Homo sapiens: one gene and its partners. The protein of the gene in region 6 purifies or fractionates together with the protein of the main gene of each other region. This does not show direct contact. Each region holds a gene or a part of one and is shown on either strand. Other genes may lie near its edges. The genes, in order: NUCKS1, ZDHHC5, AP2A2, HCN1, L1TD1 and REPS1.

Region 1 (4,258 bases), on a different chromosome or scaffold from region 6:
TTTTACAAAGGGAGACTTTCAGGAGGCAGATGTGGTGTGTTTTTTGTTGTTGTTGTTTGGAAAGTGTATCTTCAATTGGTTGTTAACTGACTGCTCATTGGAGACTTCTGCCAGATGCGCCCAGATCATTAGTCCGTTTGAATCATCACGTCTTCCAGGCCCCACCCTACTCTCTGATAGGCCCCACCTTCACCGTGGGGTCCTGTTAGTCAAGATGCTCTGAGAGCGCACAGCCACCAAACAAAAATGATCGCTTTGACTGTGACAGGGATTGACGTCTATTTTCGATAGCAGACTCAGCCTTAGCCATTCACATAGGAATCCTGAGCTCTGCCTTTGAGAGTATTAGGCATCCAACAAATGCTCACGGATTTAAGTGAAATGATGTGCGTTACTTTCAGTTATATGACTTCGAAGAGTCTTTGTTTTGTTTTTCAAAGTGCAAGGGTAAATCAATAGAATTCATAGGGTCTTGAGCCAGCTCCACCCATCTCTACCCAGGGACGGAATCATCTTTTAAAACTTGGATTTAACACTTACGTAGCACTTACTGTGAGCCAGAGACTATCCTAAAGACTTTTGATAGATATATCAACTCATTTAATACTAATAAGCCTATGCAGTTAGGTACCCTTGTTTCCCATTTTACAGATGAGAAAACTGAGGCACAGAGAAGGAAAGTTATACCACCATTAAGTAGTGGACCTGGGATTCCACCTGAAATACCTTGTGGCCCCTGAGCTCATGCTCTTAGTTATTGTACACCTGACTCTTTTCTTAAAATAGTAATGCACCAGACTGGGACTTTAATGACCCTGAAGTGGATCTCAAGGTCCAGAATGGAGAATGGTAATTGGGGGTGAAGATATTCCTTGATTATGATCCTGCCTCTCTACTCCAGCAGCCTCATTTGGTCCCTGAGGGTTAATGCCGAAGCCAGGGTAAGGGGCTTGTAGGTTTAAGGTCAAATTTTTTGAACCTAAGGAATTTCCCTCCAATTCTGTAGCAGCCCCGCAGTGACGAATCTGCTGCCTCTCCCACGGGTTTTGCTATTAGAGGATTTTCAAGGTGATCAAGGCAGACGAGATGAAACACCATTAAACTAACACTGAGCAACGCTGAACCCTACATAAATCTTTTTTTCTAGTCTTTCTAAGATACGACCCCAGACGAATCTGCAACTCTGGAGTGGAAACCAGGGGGCGGGCTAAGCAGCGACCATTTTTGTTTTGCGGCCGTGCGCTCTCAGAGCATCTTGACTAACAGGACCCCCACGGTGAAGGTGGAGCCTATCAGAGAGCAGGGCGGGGCCTGGAAGACGTGATGATTCAAACGGACTAATGATCTGGGCGCATCTGGCAGAAGTCTCCAATGAGCAGGCGTGTTGGGGAGGAGCGCACAAACCCTAGTGGGTTTGGTTGCACGGCGGCTTTGGCGCATTTTCGGCTGGTTTGATTCATCCATTTTGAAGAGACGGGGGAGCGGGGGGCTCGTCTGTTCCAGGAGCCCTGAACCAAAGAGCAGCGGAGTTTGAGAAGCCAGCAGCTCGGGGTTCGGCAGCAGCGGTCCCATCGGCTGAAGTTCGGGGGGGGTGGGGCGCCGAGCGCGCGGGGTGGGGGGGGTCCTGGTCTTTGGCTTCTCGACTCGGTCCTGTTTCGACAGCGAACATGTCGCGGCCTGTCAGGTCAGTGCGGAGTCTGAGGCCTGGAGCGGGTTGGAGGGGGATGGGGGCGAGTGGTGAAAAGAGTGGGGGACAGAAGGCTAGAGTCCGCCATCCCCGGTGCCGCGCGCGGCCTCCTCCCTTTCGGGGCCCGCGCGCACCCTTGAGCGTGGGGGGCCCTGCTGGCGCGCGGGGGTGGTGGCTGCGCGCCCGTGCGCGCGCCCCTCCCCGCCCCGCGCCGCTGCAGGGCTCCGGTCTGCTCAGCTGCCTCCCCCACCCACCGCACTAGAGCGGGCGGGGTGTCCCTGAGCCGCCAGCGGCCGGAGGGGGAGGGGTGTGAAGTCAGCGCCCCCAAGAGGCCCCACCTCCTCGGGGCCGTCCCCTTGGAGCCAGCGCGGGGAGGCGGGCGGACTCGAGCTCCACTCCCCACCTTCAGCGAGGAGGGGCGGAGGCACCCGTATTGCCCCTTCCCCCAGCGACTGGCGCGGGGGTGGGGGCCCTGAGCCCTCTCTGTAGCGGACGGGGGTGTTCCTGGCAAAGGGGGAGGGGCAGCACTGCCAACCGGCCCCGCCTCTGTCCTTCGGGGTCGCTGCAGGCCCCGCCTCCCGGATCGGGCCGAGCGTGGGCGGGACCCGTTTTTTTCCCCCCGGGCAAAAGTGAGAGTTCGGGACTGGATCCTGGAAAATAATGGGCTGCTGCCTCTCTCCCCACCTCAGAGTTTTGAGAGAGTTAACCCCAAAGTTCGCTCTTTCTCTCCGACTAGAAATGTCCTTCCTCGGGGAAATGTCCGTACTCAGGGAGGTGCGGGTTAACAGCACGGCCCAAATCCCGTGTGGTTCTCGTTCCACTCTCACCCGCGTACGCGTCTCGGGATATTTTTGTAACCCTCTTGTCCCCGAGTGACTTTAGTAATAAAAGGGCTAGGTTCGGGTAACCATCAGACTTCATTCTCGGAATTTCAACAAGTTTGCTATTCCCCCAGCTGTCGGTGGAATCGTCCTATGCCATTCTCCAGGCTATTGTATGGAATGTGCCATTTATGGAGGGGTGTGGTTTAGTCCAATCTGTTGAGGCCTTAAAAAGGAGAGCTGTTGCAAATAAATATTTTTAATGTAAGGAATTGGCTTCTTTGCATAGTGTGTTTTCTAAATAAATAGATAAAGGCTTAGTTTTTAAATGTTTTAACAGTCGTTGCTTCCCCTTCATTCCAAGTTGTGTGGGAAACGGAAGTACCTTTAATTAGAGTTCTAAAGAGAGGTTTGGGACCCTGGCAAGGGTTTTGTTCTACACCGTTCTGTCTCCAGACTAGATCATCCTCCAACTGGTGGTGGTATGAGACTGCGTACTCCTACACACGGGGTGGGAATGAGGAGAAAGCTGCTGTTAGCTCTGTTTCAATCAGCATCTGTGGTAACTCACGATCTCTACTCTGAAAGTTATGCTGGCCTTTTGGCAAGGAGTCTGGATAGCTCTTTCAGAGTATAGTTTGCGTAATTTTTTTGGCATAAAACTTGACCAATGTATCCATCAACTCACGTAGAATATTTTCTTTAGGATCAGGTAAAATAATAAAATAAAGATTTATTTTACCTGGATTGGATCTTTTGTCTTCTGGAAGTAATTACTGTGTGGTCAAATTAGGTCAAATTAGGAAAAATAATTCCTCTACCTTTTAAATTTTAGTTCACTAAGTTTTGATGACTTTATTTTATTGTGGTGACGTTCTTATCTCATCTGCCTGAATTTGTTTTCCCAGATTTAGGTATTGGAACATGAACAGAACATTTTTACTGGAAAACTTGGATTTTTTATGTTACCATGTGGGGATATATATATTAAGCACATTCTATCAGTTTTTTGGAGGCATTGGGACTTCTGCACAACTTTTTTATTACTCAGTATGTTGTTTAAACTAATTTTGACCTTGTTTATTTCCCCTAATTGAAGAGTGAAGTTAATATGTTGTGGGCTGTTTTTTTTTTTCTTTGCCATTTTCAAATTATTAATTTCAGAGCAAGTTGGTTACGGAGTATATTTTAGTCATAAATTCTTTGTAATTATTTTTTAAAAGAAGTCTTTATTCATGACCAATAATAAAGCAGAAATAATTAAACTTGAGTTTGGTGGTTTGTTAAATTTTGCAATAAAAAAGTCCTGACTTAGGGAAATGATGTTGTTTCAAAGTATAATTGAAGAATCTATATTCCCTTAGTGCATTTAACATCAACGAAAAAAGTGATAGACATTGACCTGATTTCAGAATCATCAGCCTTGTTTTAAAAACAAAAAAGCACAAGTTGGAAAATATTGTCACTGTGTCGTCTTTTGGGGTATTTCTGCCCTTAGGCCTGTGTATAATTTTGCAGTTTTTCTGGTTCTCATTGTACCATAAATATCCATTTTTATTTTAATATGAACCTAAACATTTTAAGAGCATTTGGAAATGTACCTATGGCACCTTAGCATCAATTTCCAAATGAAGGGTGGTATGGTGGACCTATTGGCTACTGCATGGTTTTGCAAAGACCTGTGTCTAGCACGTTATGTTTAACTTTGTTCATACAAGATTGCTGTCTTTACCCTTTGCAGTGGCCGACT
Region 2 (3,500 bases), on a different chromosome or scaffold from region 6:
CCCCATCTCTACAAAATAAAGTAAAATAAATTAACTGGGTGTGGTGGCATGTGCCTGTAATCCCAGCTACTTGGGAGGCTGAGGTGGGAAGAGCACTTGAGCCTAGGAGTTGCAGGCTGCAGTGAACATGATCATGCGTACCACTGTACTCCAGCCTGGTCAACAGAGTGAGACCTTGTCTCAAAAAAAAAAAAAAAATACATGAGAATTGACTCCCAAATACCTCCCTCTTATATCAATTTAATACTTTGAGTTGCCATAATGCTCAATTTCTAAATCTGATTTTCCCTCCCTTCATCAATCCAGTCTAAGGGAAGCCTGGAGATAACAGAGAGCCAGTCTGCAGATGCTGAACCTCCACCTCCTCCTAAGCCAGACCTGAGCCGTTACACAGGGTTGCGAACACACCTCGGCTTGGCTACTAATGAGGGTAAGGGCTGCCTTGATTTGCAAGATACTAGAACTAGGGGCAGGATTGAGAAGGTTGCTTATGAGCTGTGGAAGACAGGCAAGGGCTGGGAGATATTACTCGTGTTGTGACTTTAAACACCCAACAGTTGGTACTTGTGCTACTTTGCAACTGAAAGAGAAGAGAGGCCATTTAGCTATTGGCAGTGAATGGGACTTTTGCCGGGAAAATGGTCAGCCTCTAGGCAGACCAGAGAACATCACAGAACCTTTTTGGTGCATTTACCCACCCTGAATTCTGGGCTGGTGTGAGTCTTTAAAAGTCTTGATTTCAGCGAAGGGTATATCTATTCCTACCTTGTCCTCTCCCTGTACTTAAGGAACCCTAGGCAGATAAAGTGAACAACTCATAGACTAGACGCAGTGGCTCACACCTGTGATCCCAGCACTTTGGGAGGCCAACGCAGGAGGATTGCTTGAGCCCAGGAGTTCAAGACCACCCTGGGCAACATAGCAAGACTCTGTCTCTACAAAAAATTTAAAAAAGTTAGCTGGGCATGGTGGCATATGCCTGCAGTCCCAGCTACTCAGGAGGCTGAGGTGGGAGCCCAGGAGTTCAAGGCTCCAGTGAGCTATAATCGTGCCACTGCACTCTAGCTTGGACAGTAGAGTGAGACCCTGTCTCTTAAACCAAAAAACCGCTTGTAAAATAGTGCCCCCTTGGCCTTTTTTCTTGCAGATAGTAGCTTATTGGCCAAGGACAGCCCCCCGACACCTACCATGTACAAGTATCGGCCGGGTTACAGTAGCAGCAGTACGTCAGCTGCCATGCCGCATTCCTCCAGCGCCAAGGTACTGAGTACTCTAAGAGGTGGGGTAATAACATGCCAACTGGCCAGGCACAGTGGCTCATTCCTGTAATCCCAGCACTTTGGGAGCCCAAGGTGGGTGGATCACAAGGTCAAGAGATTGAGACCGTCCTGGCCAACATGGTGAAACCCCGTCTCTACTAAAAATACAAAAATTAGGCCAGGCGTGGTGGCTCACGCCTGTAATCCCAGCACTTTGGGAGGCCGAGACTGGTGGATCACAAGGTCAGGAGTTCGAGACCAGCCTGGCTAATGTGGTGAAACCCCATCTCTACTAAAAATACAAAAATTGCCGGGCACAGTGGCTCACGCCTGTAATCCCAGCACTTTGGGAGGCTGAGGCAGGTGAATCACGAGGTCAGGAGATTGAGACCATCCTGGCTAACATGGTGAAACCCCGTCTCTACTAAAAATACAAAAAAATTAGCCAGGCATGGTGGCAGGTGCCTGTAGTCCCAGCTACTCGGGAGGCTGAGCCAGGAGAATGGCGTGAACCCAGGAAGCGGAGCTTGCAGTTAGCCGAGATCATGCCACTGCACTCCAGCCTGGGCAGCAGAGCGAGACCGCATCTCAAAAAAAAAATAAATAAATAAATACAAAAATTATCTGGGCGTGGTGGGGGGGCACCTGTAATCCCAGCTATTCGGGAGGCTGAGGCAGGAGAATCACTTGAATCTGGGAGGTGGAGGTGGCAGTGAGTCGAGATTGCGCCACTGCACTCCAGTCTGGGTGACAGAGTGAGAGTCCATCTCAAAAAAAAAAAAAAAAAATTAGCTGGTAGTGGTATGCATCTGTAGTCCCAGCTACTTGGCAGGCTGAGGCAAGGAGAATCGCTTGAACCTGGGAGGAGAATTGCTTGAACCTGGGAGGTGGAGGCTGCAGTGAGCTGAGCTCCCACTGCTGTATTCCAGTCTGGTGACAGAGTGAGACTACACCTCAAAAAAAAAAAAAAAAAAAAAAAGGCCAAGCACAGTGGCTCAAGCCTGTAATCCCAGCACTTGGGGAGGCTGAGGCAGACGGACCACCCGAGGTCAGGAGTTTGAGACCAGCCTGGCCAACTTGGTGAAACCCTGTCTCTACTAAAAATACAAAAATTAGCTGGGCGTGGTGGCGGGGCGCCTGTAATCCCAGCTACTCGGGAAGCTGAGGCAGGAGAATCGTTTGAACCTGGGAGGCTGAGGTTGCAGTGAGCCAAGATTGCACCATCACGCTCCAGCCTGGGCTTAAAACACACACACACACACACACACACACACACAAACAAATGCCAACTGTTACGGGAAAAAAAGAAGATTAGGGGAAGGAAAAGGCAGAAGAAAGGACATTTCACTAATTGTTGGCATTCGTGGAACTCAATCTCCTTGATACTGTGTCCTTCATCAGACTGGGCAATATAGCATAATAGATTAGTGCTTGATCCGAGTTTATAACCCAGTTCTGCCCACGGGCGAGATACTCAGCCTTTCTACGTCTTGCTTTCTGTATCTGAAAAGGAGATGATATTTGCCTGAATTCAGTTTTTCTTGAGGGATTAACCCAGATAATGCATGTAAGAGTTCTAAGCTTATTATTGGCACATAATTCTCTTTTTGACCAACTCCTTGAGCTCTGGGGTCTAGCTTCTGTCACAAAAGGAGCACTAAGAGCCTGCTTTACTTTCTTCCTCAGTTGAGTCGTGGGGACAGCTTGAAGGAGCCAACCTCAATTGCAGAGAGCAGCCGTCACCCCAGCTACCGCTCAGAGCCCAGCTTGGAACCAGAGAGCTTCCGTTCTCCTACCTTTGGCAAAAGTTTTCACTTCGATCCACTATCCAGTGGCTCACGCTCCTCCAGCCTCAAGTCAGCCCAGGGCACAGGCTTTGAGCTGGGCCAGTTGCAATCCATTCGTTCAGAGGGCACCACCTCCACCTCCTATAAGAGCCTGGCCAACCAGACACGCAATGGAAGCCTATCTTATGACAGCTTGCTCACACCTTCAGACAGCCCTGATTTTGAGTCAGTGCAGGCAGGGCCTGAGCCAGACCCACCTTTAGGCTATACCTCTCCCTTCCTGTCAGCCAGGCTGGCCCAGCAACGGGAAGCTGAGAGGCACCCACGTTTGGTGCCAACTGGCCCAACACACCGAGAGCCCTCACCAGTCCGTTACGACAATCTGTCGCGCCACATTGTGGCCTCTCTCCAGGAACGAGAGAAGTTGCTGCGCCAGTCACCCCCACTCCCGGGC
Region 3 (3,436 bases), on a different chromosome or scaffold from region 6:
CTCGCCTTTGCTGTTTCTCACAGTCCACAGCAGGAAGTGCAGAACATCTTCAAAGCAAAGCACCCAATGGACACAGAAGTCACCAAAGCCAAGGTAACACGTCTGGAGGGACGGCCCCGGGGGACACGCAGCCCGTGACCCCGCGCCAGGGTCTGGAGGGACGGCCCCGGGGAACACGCAGCCCATGACCCCGCGCCAGGGTCTGGAGGGACGGCCCCGGGGGACACGCAGCCCGCGACCCAGCGCCAGGGTCTGGAGGGGCGGCCCCGGGGGACACGCAGCCCACGACCCAGCGCCAGGGTCTGGAGGGGCGGCCCCGGGGGACACGCTGCCCGCGACCCCGCGCCAGGGTCCTCATTCTCCTGTTTCTTTGGACAGATCATTGGATTTGGTTCTGCACTTCTTGAAGAAGTTGATCCTAATCCTGCGAATTTCGTGGGAGCTGGAATCATCCACACGAAAACCACCCAGATTGGATGCCTGCTGCGCTTGGAGCCGAACCTGCAAGCCCAGGTCAGGCCCTCAGGAAATGGTGGAACACACTTGAGTTGCTTTTTATTCTGGCACAATGTACGTGGTGAGATGTGTAGCTCTTTAGTGCAGTTCAGTCAGTTTTGACAGATGTTGTTTAACCACCACCCTGTCAATACATGGTTGCCTCCCAGCCTCCCCGCAGCTGGCCACCGTGGAGCATCATCCCTAGTGCAGTTCAGTCAGTTGTGACAGATGTTGTGTGCCTGTTTAACCACCACCCTGTCAATACATGGTTGCATCCCAGCCTCCCCACAGCTGGCCACCGTGGAGCATCGTCCCACCATGGAGCAGCCTGGCCCTGGGCGGTGGCTCTCCCAGCTGTTCCTCTCTGTCACCGCGTTGTTCCTTCTCACCACGTCCCGTTCTGGCGACGGACACCTGTCTCCGTTTCACTTGGGTGGCACCCAGGAGTGCTGCTGTCGCCCAGGGCCTGTGTGTGGTTAGTGCTGCAAGAACATCCCACAGCTTCTCCAGGTGGCCGTGCCACTTTGCACTCCCGCCAGCTACGTACGAGACGCCAGGCGCTCCCATGCCAGCCCTCAGTTTTCATGCTGACAGTGTGTGTGGTGCTCAGGCCTCTGCCGAGTTGTGGGTGCCTCCAGAGAGTGGTCCCTGGGCATGGCCCACAGGGTTCTGCATGGCGGATCCTGGACCCGAGGGCTGTGTGAGCCTCGGCGTGCCCGTTGACCTGCTGTGCTCTCTGTTTCAGATGTACCGGCTCACGCTGCGCACAAGTAAGGAAGCCGTTTCTCAGAGATTATGTGAATTGCTCTCAGCGCAGTTTTAGTCCTGAGGATGGAAGACCAGGCTCGTGTGTCTTGTGTTGTCTTCGTCTGTGCCGTTTGTCTTCGTGGCCATCCTGCAGATGAGCACCGTGTCCAGTGCCACAGCACAAGGCGCCTCCCCGCCCCGCCGCCCCACACCTCTCCCCTTTGGGCTGGACGGGAACACACGTGTGTGGCTCAGGAGGAAAAGCTCAGCCTGGACTGTGGCAGCCACGGCAGAAGGTGGATCTTGGGATCAATTTTTATAAAAATCGAGACAGTTCTGTGGTTAAATCTACAAATTAAAGGGAAATTAGAAGTTGGCGTGAACGTGGCGTTTGTGGGAGTGTCACTGAGATGGCCCGTGCTGCCGCCCACCCCGCCTCGGAGCCTCTGGGAGCAGCAGTGCCACTGTGCATGGCGTGGGCTGAGCCTTGGTGTGTGGCCGTCCTGGTGGCTGCACACCTGGCGTCGTCCTGGGCCCTTGGGAGGAGCACAGCTGACCCTGGTTTTGCTGCAGTCCCAGCTGGACTGTTTTCCCAGGCAGGATTTTAATCTAGAATTTAGAAACATTTGTATTTGTAATGACTTCTGGCAAAAGCACGTGTCCTGGCCGGATGTAACTGTTCTCCTTTCCCAGCTCCTGTTTGTGAAGGGCGTCTGTTATGCTCCTGCAGTCGCCGAGGCCTTGGATGTGCAGCCAGGGGAGGAGCGTCCTGCCGGCCCCGCAGGGCCCCCAGGACTCCAGGGTAAAGTGTGGGCCGGTGGCGCAAGACTCAGAGGTGTGCTCGTCTCTTTCCTGTCAGAGTGGGCGTCCCCAGGCCACGGTGCAGGCCTGAGTCCTTCCACCGGCCCCGTCCAGTCGTCCCTGGAGGGGCTGTGGAGGAGGGACGCCTCTGTGTGGTCAGGAAGTGAAGGGGCCATTGGCCGCATGCCATGTGCCACCTGCGGCTTGTGTCTCACCTGTCATCTGGACTCAGCACCCAGGCTGCACGTCTGACACCTGAGAGGCGAGAGAGTGGGGCCGGCCTAGGAGCCAAGGCTGGGGCCTTGCGCTCTGTCCCCAGGATGGTGGCCTTGTTTGTCCTAAACACACCCAGCACAGGTTCTGGCTTCCTGACATGCTGTGGAGGCAGGGAGGGTGGGTGGCCACATGTGCTTGAGGGTTTTCACCCTGGCCCTCAGTTGCCTGCTGTGCGGGTCCCTGGGGCAGCTGCAGGGGCTCATGGACCCATCAGGGTCTCCACAGCTCCCCTGCAGTGTGTGCACCCCACAATGTCTGCGGCTCTTCTTCCGGCGTGTCGGGCTTTGATCACAGCATAGCCACGTCAGTGGCGTGCGCCTCTCGCACAGGCCATTCTGGGTCTGGTGGTGCCAGGTGCCGTGACACGCCGTGCTGGGCTTGTGCTGCAGCTGGGTGGTGTGGCCCTCATTCTCATGTTCCAGCTGCTGGGCAGTGCTCTGCCTGTGTGCTGCGCCTGCAGGCTGCGTGTGCTGCCGTGGATCTCCTGCATCCCTTGACCCCTCCCGCCATCAGAGGAAAGGCTGCTCCCCGAGGCACCGCTTCCCTGTGCGGCGCTGCAGAGGGGCCCTCAGTGTGGCACTCCTCGTCAAAGAAAAATAAAGGCTAGAACTGCACCCCGGATCACGCGCTTTCTTTGGGGGGAAAGCATCCCATGTAACCCTCATAGCTCCCCGGGGGTCGCGTGAGGCACAGACCCCAAGGTCCCCGACCTGTCCTTCAGCAGTGGGCTCACGGGCAGCGGGCATCAGAAAGTGACCTGCCCTTTGCTCCGCCGGTTTGATTCTGGGTGTGTGGTGGAGCTTTTTGGGACTCAGGTCATGCGGGAACCCCTCCAGCCTGGCCGCAGGGCTCCCCACTGTACAGTGTGTTGAGGTGCAGCCCAGGGCTCCTTCCTGGGGAACGGGAGGCCCCGTGGGGATCCTCCAGTTGATCCTACCACAGATGGTGCAGAAGGGGCTCTCGGGCAGATGGGGGTGGCCCCCGGAGGACGGTGGGCTTCGCCAGAGACGGAACAGTCCTAATGGAGGGAGGGCAGGGGCCCAAAGCCAGAGGCAGCTTCTCTTACCAGCCCAGACCCTGCTGGGGGCAGCCCTGCCCAACTGCAGATCCCAGG
Region 4 (2,467 bases), on a different chromosome or scaffold from region 6:
AGTGATAAAATAATTTTGGCTAAAATAAAGCAAGTTCTCAGGCCAGGCGTGGTGGCTCATGCCTGTAATCCTAGCACTTTGGGAGGCCAAAGTGGGAGGAATGCTTGAGGCCAGGAATTGGAGACCAACCAGGGCAGCATGTCAAGACCTGGTCTCTACAAGGAAAAAAAATTTTTTTAATTGACCAGTATATACTTACATACCTGCAGTGTTTAGAAAACCCGACTATAGGTGGTGTATTCCTGTAGTCCTAGTTACTCAGAAAGTTAAGGCAGGAGGATCGCTTGAACTTAGGAGGTCAAGGCTGCAGTGAGCCCTGTTCGTTCCACTGCACTCCAGCTTGGGGGACAGAGCAAAACCCTTTCTCAAGAAAAACCCAAACAAACAAAAAAGTGAAGCCAGTTCTTTAATTTCTATTGGAGATATCACACACGCTCCAAAGAGTGGCAAAGGTGAACATTCTTTGGAGCTATTATATTTCTAATGTAACATCAATGGCCATTTACTCCCAAAGGGAAACATCTTTTTTTTTTTTTTTTTTTAAGATGGAGTCTGGCTCTGTCACCCAGGTGGGAGTGCAATGGCAGGATCTTGGCCCACTGCAACATCAGCCTCCCAGGTTTAAGCAATTCTCCTGCATCAGCCTCCAGAGTAGCTGGGATTACAGGTGCCCGCCACCATGGCTAGCTAAATTTTTGTAATTTTTAGTAGAGACAGGGTTTTACCATGTTGGCCAGGCCGGTCTCGAACCCCTAACCTCAAGTGATCCGCCCGCCTCACCCTCCAGAAGTGCTAGGATTACAGGCCTGAGCCACCGCACCCGGCCCTGCTATTTTTTTCTATGTAGTTGTTTCAGTAATACCATATGAGCAGAGAATACTATTGATTCATTCAATTGAAGAAATCTGAATAAATTAGTAAATATAATAATTCTTCAAAAGAGGACCACTTTATGTTTCCAATAGATTATATAATTGAATTCAGGTAACGTAGAGTTATTCAGACTTTTTTTTTTAAATAACGGAATTTTGCAAAAAAACAGGTTGCATCGTTTTCTACAGAGAATATTCAGATGTGTAGAGGCAAAGAGACTTTCTTGAAAGGTTTTTATTTCCTGTTAAATTTGTGAGGAAAACTCCTGAGAAAGGAAAGATTTACTTTTGAAGGAAGAAAGAACATAACCCAAAGAAATTTGAAAGATTCAAAAAGAGTTTTCCAAATGTATTCTCATTTCTTTCTCATATTTGTTCAAGGTCTTAGTTTCCAAGCATTCAAAATTAAATCTTGTTTGCCTAACTCTTCTAACATCTATTACCAACCTAACATATTACAATTCTGTTTAAAATGTGCAGTTCTAAATGTTCTTGCGTGCCTCACTGTGGAAAGTGTGGTGCATGGAACTGCAGCGTCAGTATCACCCAGAAGTATAATTACAAGAAGTGCAGAGTCCTTGGCCTTACCCTGTACCTACAGAAGTCCGCTTTTGGGCAAGATCCCCAGATGATTCATATGTGTATTAATATTGAAAAAATTGGAACTAGTAAGTCCTAGAGGAGGTAAATTTTAAGGGCTTTTTAAGGGAACTTCCAAGTGTGAAGACATTTCTGGAGATGACAAGTCAACATAGCATGGGATCTTGGCTAGACAAGGAAAGCGAGAGAACATTAAATAAACACAAGCAACGACAAACCACCTATGTTATAATTTTATCCTGGACCATCCAAAGTTTACTCTTGGTCACGCTGTCTAACCCAGCCTGCCTCCTGGCACTTGCTAGTTAGAACCAGGGAAGAGAAAACTAATATGTGTTAGGTATTATAATTTCCTTATGTCACATAAATTTTGGTGCCATAGCTAGCAATGTTTCTTAATATCACATCAGTACAATGTGTCCATTGCCTTCTGTAACATTTTTAATGCTATCAATAATACATTGACATTATAAAAATAAATGAATGTGGTCAATATTTTGCAAAGAGCTTCTCTTCATCAGCTATATCTATACACCTGCAGTGTTTAGAAAGCCTGACTACAAAAACTGGCTCTACTGCTTATGTCTTGCTCTACTTGCTTATTCTACCCATGGTAGAATTATATAGTCATATTGTGTCCGGAGTTGGTTCCTTCCAGTGGGTTCATGGTCTCACTGACTTCAAGAATGGAGCCACGGACCTTTGCGGTGTTACAACTCTTAAAAATGGCACAGACCCAAAGAGTAAGGAGCAGTAAGAGTGAAAACAAAGCTTCCACAGGTGGAAGCAAACCCCAGTGGGATGCCTCTGCTGGCTTGGGGGTGGCCAGCTTTTATTCCCTTATTTGTCCCCTCCCATGTTCCATTTTTGTCCTATCAGAGTGCCTTTTTTCAATCCTCCCTGCGATTGGCTACTTTTAGACTCCTGCTGATTGGTGCATTTTACAGAGCACTGATTGGTGCATTTTACAGAGCGCAGTTTGGTGCATTTTACAA
Region 5 (3,500 bases), on a different chromosome or scaffold from region 6:
GAGCTGACATCGCACCATTGCACTCCAGCCTGGGTGACAGTGTGAGACCCTGTCCCCTCCCCTGCAAAATAAGAATCACATAAGCAGCTAAAATGTCATTCTTGTCAGGGCAAAAGATATATGCTCAGCACCCAACCAAGAATTTCAAGCAGGGCACGGTGCCACACCTGTAATCCTAGCACTCTGGGAGGTTAAGGTGGAATGATTACTTGAGCCCAGAAGTTCAACATCAGCCTGGGCAACATAGTGAGACGCTGTTTCTAAAAAATAATTTCAGAAATTTTTCATTGCAATAAAAATTGAATCAGGAAAAAGGATAGCATAAAAGTAAAAGATAAATTAAACTTAAAAACTTCTATGTTTAATGTTTAAATACTAAAGGTTAAAGTTATTTAAATTTTAAAATGACTATTCAGTCAAACTAATGGAGAAACTTAAAATACTAAATCAAAATGATAACTACCTATCAAAACTTGGGGAATGTAGCTAAAGTGGTGCTTTGAGGAAAATGTATAGACTTAAAATTTTAGAATTTTCTAGAAAGAATAAAAATTAAAGTTAAATTACCAGATCAAGGGCAAAATCTACCCAAGAAACCAAAAGAGATGCGCGCAAATCAAAGAAATGAAAAACAGAAACTTATAGAGAATTAACAAAACCAAAATACAAATAAGGAATACTATGAATAACAAGGGGACACAACTACAGATAAAGCATGGTTCAAAAATGGGAGCACCATTCAACTTTCATAATTAAATCAGAAAATTTAGAAGCAACTATTATCTTAGCTGTGCCCAAACTCTTCTAGAGAATAGCGAAAAAAGGCCAGGCACGGCGACTCACATCTAGAATCCCAGCACCTTGGGAGGCCAAGGCAGGTGGATCCCCTGAGGTCAGGACTTTGAGACCGGCCTGGCCGAGATGGCGAAACCCCATCTCTACTAAAAATACAAAAATTAGCAGAGGCCAGGCGTGGTGGCTTACACCTGTAATCCCAACACTCTGGGAGGCCGAGGCAGGTGGATCACAAGGTCAGGAGATAAGACACCATCCTGGCTAATACGGTGAAACCCTTTCTCTACTAAAAATATAAAAACAAAAAATTAGCTGGGTGTGGTGGCAGGCACCTGCAGTCCCAGCTACTTGGGAGGCTGAGGCAGGAGAATGGCATGAACCTGGGAGGCAGAGCTTGCAGTGAGCCTAGATCGTGCCACTGCACTCCAGCCTGAGCGTCAGAGCGAGACTCCGTCTCAAAAGAAAAAAAACATTAGCCAGACGTGGTGGCACGCACCTGTAGTCCCAGCTACTCAGGAGGCTGAGGTATAAGAATCACTTGAACCTGGGAGGTGGAGGTTGCAGTGAGCCAAGATCACGCCACTGTACCGGGCGACAGAGTGAGACCCTGTCTCAAAAAAAAAAGAGAGTAGAATGATAGTTACCAGAGCCTGGGAAGGGTAGTAGGTGGGTGGATGTAGGGAATAGGGATGGTTAATGGGTACAAAAATAATCTAGTATTTGATAGCACAGCAGGGTAACTACACTCAACAATAGCTTATTGTATACTTAAACAGTATAATTGGAATGTTTGTAACAAGAAGAAATGATAAATGTTTGAGGTAGTGCATAGGATACCCCCATTTACCCTGATGTGATTATTACACATTGCATGCCTGTATGGAAATAAATATATACATCTACTATGTAACCATAAAAATTTAAAACAGGCCAAGCGCAGTGGCTCACACCTGTAATCCCAGCACTTTCGGTGGCCGAGGTGAGTGAGCGGATTGCTTGAGCCCAGGAGTTTGAGACCAGCCTCAGCAATGCAGTGAGACCTCATCTCCAGTTTTTTTAAAAAACAAATTAGGCTGGGTGAGGTGGCTCATGCCTGTAATCCCAGCACTTTGGGAGGCCGAGGTGGGCAGATCACCTGAGGTCAGGAGTTCGTGACTACCCTGGCCAACATGGTGAAACCCTGTCTCTACTACAAATACAGATTTAGCTGGGCGTGGTGGTGGGTTCCTGTAATCCCAGCTGCTCAGGAGGCTGAGGCAGGAGAATCAGTTGAAGCCAGGAGGCGGAGGTTGCAGTGAGCTGGGATCGTGCCATTGCCTCCAGCCTGGGCGACAAGAGCAAAAGAGCAAGACTCTGTCTCAAAAAAAAAAAAAAAAAAAAAAAATTAAACCCTGGATGTGGAAGTTGCAATGAGCCCAGATCACGCCTCTGGGCTACAGAGTAAGCCTCTGTCTCAAAAAAATAAAAAATAAAAAATTTTAAATGAACAGCTAAAAAAAAAAAAAAAGAAAAGAAAAAGAAAAAAGCATGATAGTTACAAAAAATTGTTTAAAAAACACGGCACTCATTTATCACAAAGTAACTTCCAAAATATGAGCAACAGGAGGTAAGGGGGACAAATGTATACAGAAAATCTTGATTACACCAGAGTAAAGGTCAAAAGAGGAAACATGTAAAACATGTAAATGATTACTAAAAAAGAGAAGGAATCAATATTAATTACACATTTCACCCTCAGCCTTTTTTTTTTTTTGAGATGAAGTTTCACTCTTGTTGTCCAGGCTGGAATGCAATGGCATGATCTCGGCTCACCGCAACCTCCACCTCCCAGGTTCAAGCGATTCTCCTGCCTAAGCCTCCCAAGTAGCTGGGATTACAGGCATGTGCCACCACGCCTGGCTAATTTTGTACTTTTAGTAGAGACAAGGTTTCTCCGTGTTGGTCAGGCTGGTCTCGAACTCCCAACCTCAGGTGATCCACCCACCTCGGCCTCCCAAAGTGCTGGGATTACAGGCGTGAGCCACCTCACCCAGCCTCATCCCTCTTAATTAAGTAAATTTTAAAAACCCAGCACCAGTAGTGTCTGAATCTAATCAAGGACTGAGAAAGCAACCAAATAGTCCACCGGACAGGTCCATAGGACCCTATACAGGACTTCAACAGGAATAAAGGGGCCCACTCTCATTCAGGAGACTAAGGGAATTCACTAGATGCAATGTACGCTCCCCCTATTTTGGATCTCTATTTGAATGAATCAACTGTAAAATGCAGGGAGTACTGAATATGGACTGATTATTAAATATTGAGGAATATATATTTTATTAACTGTAACAATACTGTATTTAGTTAAGAAAGTCTCCTTATTTTATAAGAGCTACATACTGAAGTTTTTACAGGTGAAATGGCATGATGTCTGGGATTTACTTTAAAACACAGCAAACAACTAAGAAAGAAAAAAGAGAGATTAAACAAATGGGGGAAAATATTTGTTTTTGAATCTAGGTGATGAGTTCTTACTTTTATTGATGTTTGAATATGCTAATTTTTTTTTTTTTTTTTTTTTAAGCAGGGTCTCACTCGCCGAGGTTGGAGTGCAGTGGCACCGGGTCTAGCCTGATAATGCTTCTAATATTTTTTTTTAAACTGAAAATCCTTAAGGAAAACCACTGAGCTCTCCCTGGTGAAATAGACTTCTACTTGACTTG
Region 6 (3,500 bases):
TCCCTCACACATCTACTACCTGCATCCTTGCCCCGTCCTCCTCTCCCTCACACATCTATTACCTGCATCCTCGCCCCATCCTCCTCTCCCTCACACATCTGTTACCTGCATCCTCGCTCTGTCCTCCTCTCCCTCACACATCTGTTACATAGCTGCATCCTTGCCCTGTCCTCCTCTCCCTCACACATCTATTACCTGCTCTCCCATCTGCCTTTCAGTAGCAGAGAAGGCTCATTTAATAAAGTTCCTTCAAGTTTCTTATCATCATCTCAGTTTTCTTGTCAGAATATTTAACATTTTATTCTGATTTGGTACATATTCTATATTTATGCATAATTACATGTTATGTAGAATTAATAGTGATAAACATATTCATTTTTAGGCTGAAAAAGCTTCTGATCCTGCAAGTTCTCTTCGAGTTGCCAAAACAGATAGTAAAACTGAAGAAAAGACAGCTGCTAGTGCTCCTGCCAATGTGGTATGCAAAATGTCTTTTATAATAATAATTTTGTACATCATAAGTAATGTGAAATAATTTTTAGAAATAAGGTCAGCCAGAAATCATCTAACCCATTTCTCTGCCTTTAACTGTAGTATAGTCAGTCTAGCTCAGAACAAAGTCTGCCTATTTAATGGAGATGATATTCTGTAATCTATGTTAAGTATGTGTCACAGGTTCTCAAAATTTAAGTGGTTATTGCATTCTTCCCACTATATAAGGTAGAACTTCTTTATAGGTGAAATTCAGTTTCTTTTATTGTAGTCTTCAATATAATAAAGAAAAATTATCAGCCCTCTAAGGTTGTTATTATTCCCTGTTCTCTTAACTTGTTCTTTAACTGTTTTAGGTATAATTTTTTCCCCCAACATTTTATTATGAAAACGTTTAAGCATACAGAAAAATTGAAACAATTTTTCATTGTACATCAGTAAATTCACTACTTTATACCATTATTATTTTAGGATACTTGCTTTACTACATATCTCTCCATGCCATCTGTTCATCTGTCAATCCTTATATGTTTTATGTCTGTGTTAGTCCGTCTGCATTGCTATAAAGGAATATGTGAGACTGGGTAATCTGTAAAGAAAAGAGGTTATGCCGGACACAGTGGCTCACACCAGTAATCCCAGCACTTTGAGAGTCCAAGGCAGGCGGATCACTTGAACTCAGGAGTTTGAGACCAGCCTGGGCAATGTGGCGAAACCCCGTCTCTACAAAAAGTACAAATATTAGCCGTGTGTGGTGGTATGCGCCTATAGTCCCAGCTACTTGGCAGGCTGAAGTGGGGGGATCGCTTGAGCCTGGGAGGTGGAGGTTGCTGTGAGCTGAGATAGTGCCCTACACTCCACCCTGGGTGACAGAGTGAGACCCTGTCTCAAAAAAAGAAAAGAGGTTTATTTTGCCTCATGGTTCTGCATGCTGTACAGAAAGCATGGTACCAGCATCTGCTTCTTGTGAAGCCTCAGGAAACTTAGAATCATGGCAGAAGGCAAAGTGGGAGCCGGTGTGTCACATGGTGAGTGAGGGAGCAAGGAGAGATGCCAGGCTCTTTAAACAGCCAGCTCTCATGTGAACTCAAGAGTAAGAACTCATTCATTACTGTGAGAAGGGCACCAAGCCATTCACAAGGGATCTATCTCCATGACCCAAACACCTCCCACTAGGCCCACCTCCAACATTAGAGGTCACATTTCACCATGAGATTTGGAGGGGACAAATATCTAAACTATATCAGTGTACTTTAGATTGCAAGTATCAGCACACTTTCCCTTTGAGGGAATAATTTTGGTAACTTTTTTTTTCTGTTATCTAGACATTCCCAATAGTTATAAAAACAGCATGTGTTTCTGAAGTGCTTAAATTCTACTTTCTGGACACTGTGTGTGTATTAGTCTGTTTTCACACTGCTATAAAGATACCACCTGAGACGGTAATTTATAAACAAAAGAGATTTAATTGACTCACAGCTCTGCATGGCTGGGGAGGCCTCAGGAAATTTACATTTATGGCGGAAGGCAAAGGGGAAGCAGGTGGCAGGATAGAAAAAGAGTGAGGAAGTGCCTCACTGTAAAACCATTAGGTCTTGTGAGAACTCCCTCACTCTCATAAGAACAGCATGGGGGACCACCCCCATGACCCAGTCACCTCCCACCAGGCCCCTCGCTTGACACATGGGGATTACAATTTGAAGTGAGATCTGGGGACACCGAGCCAAACCATATCACTATGTTTTATTACATTAGTAGTCCTGTGAGTTTTTAAGTAATGAACTTTATTTTTGTCAACTCACAGTAACAAATTAAAAATATCACTTAACTAAAGAGATAGCAGTTGACTATTGTTTTTATTTATTTACAGGTAAATCAAGTTATGGTAAATGCCAAAATGCTGTTTTTTATTCTGCCAAGGGCAGATTCATAATCACCGACAAACTGTCAACTCATTTTCAGAAGTTATAATTACTGTGCATATTAATAATGATGTTTTTGGTTTTTTAAAGAGTTGCCTAGCTTTCCATTACTTTATAATGTTATTTTATTCACTAAGATGAATGTTAGTATTTTTGAGTAAGAAATCCTATGGTGATAATGCATAGATATTTCTGGAGACTGCCTTTGTTTATTGTTGAACAGGTATATATTGATTCTGTATCATATTTATGTTAAAACTGTGAATATTACAGTCTTGCATCAGTATGTTGCTCTAAAAATACTTATATTGCAGGTACATTCATGATTGTGGTGTCAACTAGAAACATCTTTTCTCACTGTAATTTAAGTTAGCTCTTGCCACAAATATATAGATTTAAAGTAGGACAAGTAACTTTCAATTTTCCAAGAGCAAATGGCTTAAAGAAAGCAAATGGTGTTGCAAAGTGCTAACTATGAATGTCTTCAAAAATGCTTATTATTAATGGAATTCTTGTCTTAAAGAGCAAAGGCACAACACCACTTGCTCCACCACCTAAACCTGTTCGAAGAAGATTAAAATCAGAAGATGAATTAAGGCCAGAAGTTGATGAACATACACAAAAGACGGGTGTCTTAGCTGCTGTTCTTGCATCACAACCTTCTATTCCCAGGTAATCAAAGCTATTCCTAGACACATTTAATTACTAGGAAGAAAAAGCACGACAATTAAAAGTAATCAAACTGGCCCAGGCGTGGTGGCTCACACCTGTAATCCCAGCATTTTGGGAGGCTGAGCTGGGCAGATCATTTGTGGTCAGGAGTTAGACCAGCCTGACCAACATGGTGAAACCCCATCTCTGCTAAAAATACAAAAAAATTAGCCGGGTGTGGTGGTACACACCTGTAGTCCCAGCTACTCGGGAAGCTGAGGTAGGAGAATTGCTTGAACCCAGGAGGCGGAGGTTGCAGTGAGCCGAGGTGGCACCACTGCACTCCAGCCTGGGCAACAGAGCAAGACTTCATCTCACAAATAATAATAATAACAATAATCAGACTGAAGTAAATTATGGTCAGACTAGTTCTTT

Evidence for each region.
Region 1: the proteins of REPS1 (region 6) and NUCKS1 fractionate together in Homo sapiens (co-fractionation; one large-scale study listed by BioGRID). This does not show direct contact.
Region 2: the proteins of REPS1 (region 6) and ZDHHC5 purify together in Homo sapiens (co-immunoprecipitation; one large-scale study listed by IntAct). This does not show direct contact.
Region 3: the proteins of REPS1 (region 6) and AP2A2 purify together in Homo sapiens (co-immunoprecipitation; 2 studies listed by BioGRID and IntAct, with this or other methods). This does not show direct contact.
Region 4: the proteins of REPS1 (region 6) and HCN1 purify together in Homo sapiens (co-immunoprecipitation; one large-scale study listed by IntAct). This does not show direct contact.
Region 5: the proteins of REPS1 (region 6) and L1TD1 purify together in Homo sapiens (co-immunoprecipitation; one large-scale study listed by IntAct). This does not show direct contact.

What each region holds. Positions count from the first base shown.
Region 1 is NC_000001.11:205,747,383-205,751,640, reverse strand, and holds the start of NUCKS1 (nuclear ubiquitous casein and cyclin-dependent kinase substrate 1), read left to right. Parts: upstream 1-1,458; 5' UTR 1,459-1,667; coding exon 1,668-1,684; intron 1,685-4,258.
Region 2 is NC_000011.10:57,695,614-57,699,113, forward strand, and holds part of ZDHHC5 (palmitoyltransferase ZDHHC5), read left to right. Parts: intron 1-306; coding exon 307-430; intron 431-1,147; coding exon 1,148-1,260; intron 1,261-2,945; coding exon 2,946-3,500. UniProt on the Homo sapiens protein: Palmitoyltransferase that catalyzes the addition of palmitate onto various protein substrates such as CTNND2, CD36, GSDMD, NLRP3, NOD1, NOD2, STAT3 and S1PR1 thus plays a role in various biological processes including cell adhesion, inflammation, fatty acid uptake, bacterial sensing or cardiac functions.
Region 3 is NC_000011.10:1,009,305-1,012,740, forward strand, and holds the end of AP2A2 (AP-2 complex subunit alpha-2), read left to right. Parts: intron 1-23; coding exon 24-93; intron 94-378; coding exon 379-513; intron 514-1,243; coding exon 1,244-1,321; 3' UTR 1,322-2,936; downstream 2,937-3,436. UniProt on the Homo sapiens protein: Component of the adaptor protein complex 2 (AP-2). Adaptor protein complexes function in protein transport via transport vesicles in different membrane traffic pathways.
Region 4 is NC_000005.10:45,254,448-45,256,914, reverse strand, and holds the end of HCN1 (potassium/sodium hyperpolarization-activated cyclic nucleotide-gated channel 1), read left to right. Parts: 3' UTR 1-1,967; downstream 1,968-2,467. UniProt on the Homo sapiens protein: Hyperpolarization-activated ion channel that are permeable to sodium and potassium ions. Displays lower selectivity for K(+) over Na(+) ions.
Region 5 is NC_000001.11:62,201,349-62,204,848, reverse strand, and holds part of L1TD1 (LINE-1 type transposase domain-containing protein 1), read right to left. Parts: intron 1,403-3,500; exon of another isoform or gene 1,292-1,402; intron 1-1,291.
Region 6 is NC_000006.12:138,908,254-138,911,753, reverse strand, and holds part of REPS1 (ralBP1-associated Eps domain-containing protein 1), read left to right. Parts: intron 1-382; coding exon 383-478; intron 479-2,937; coding exon 2,938-3,086; intron 3,087-3,500. UniProt on the Homo sapiens protein: May coordinate the cellular actions of activated EGF receptors and Ral-GTPases.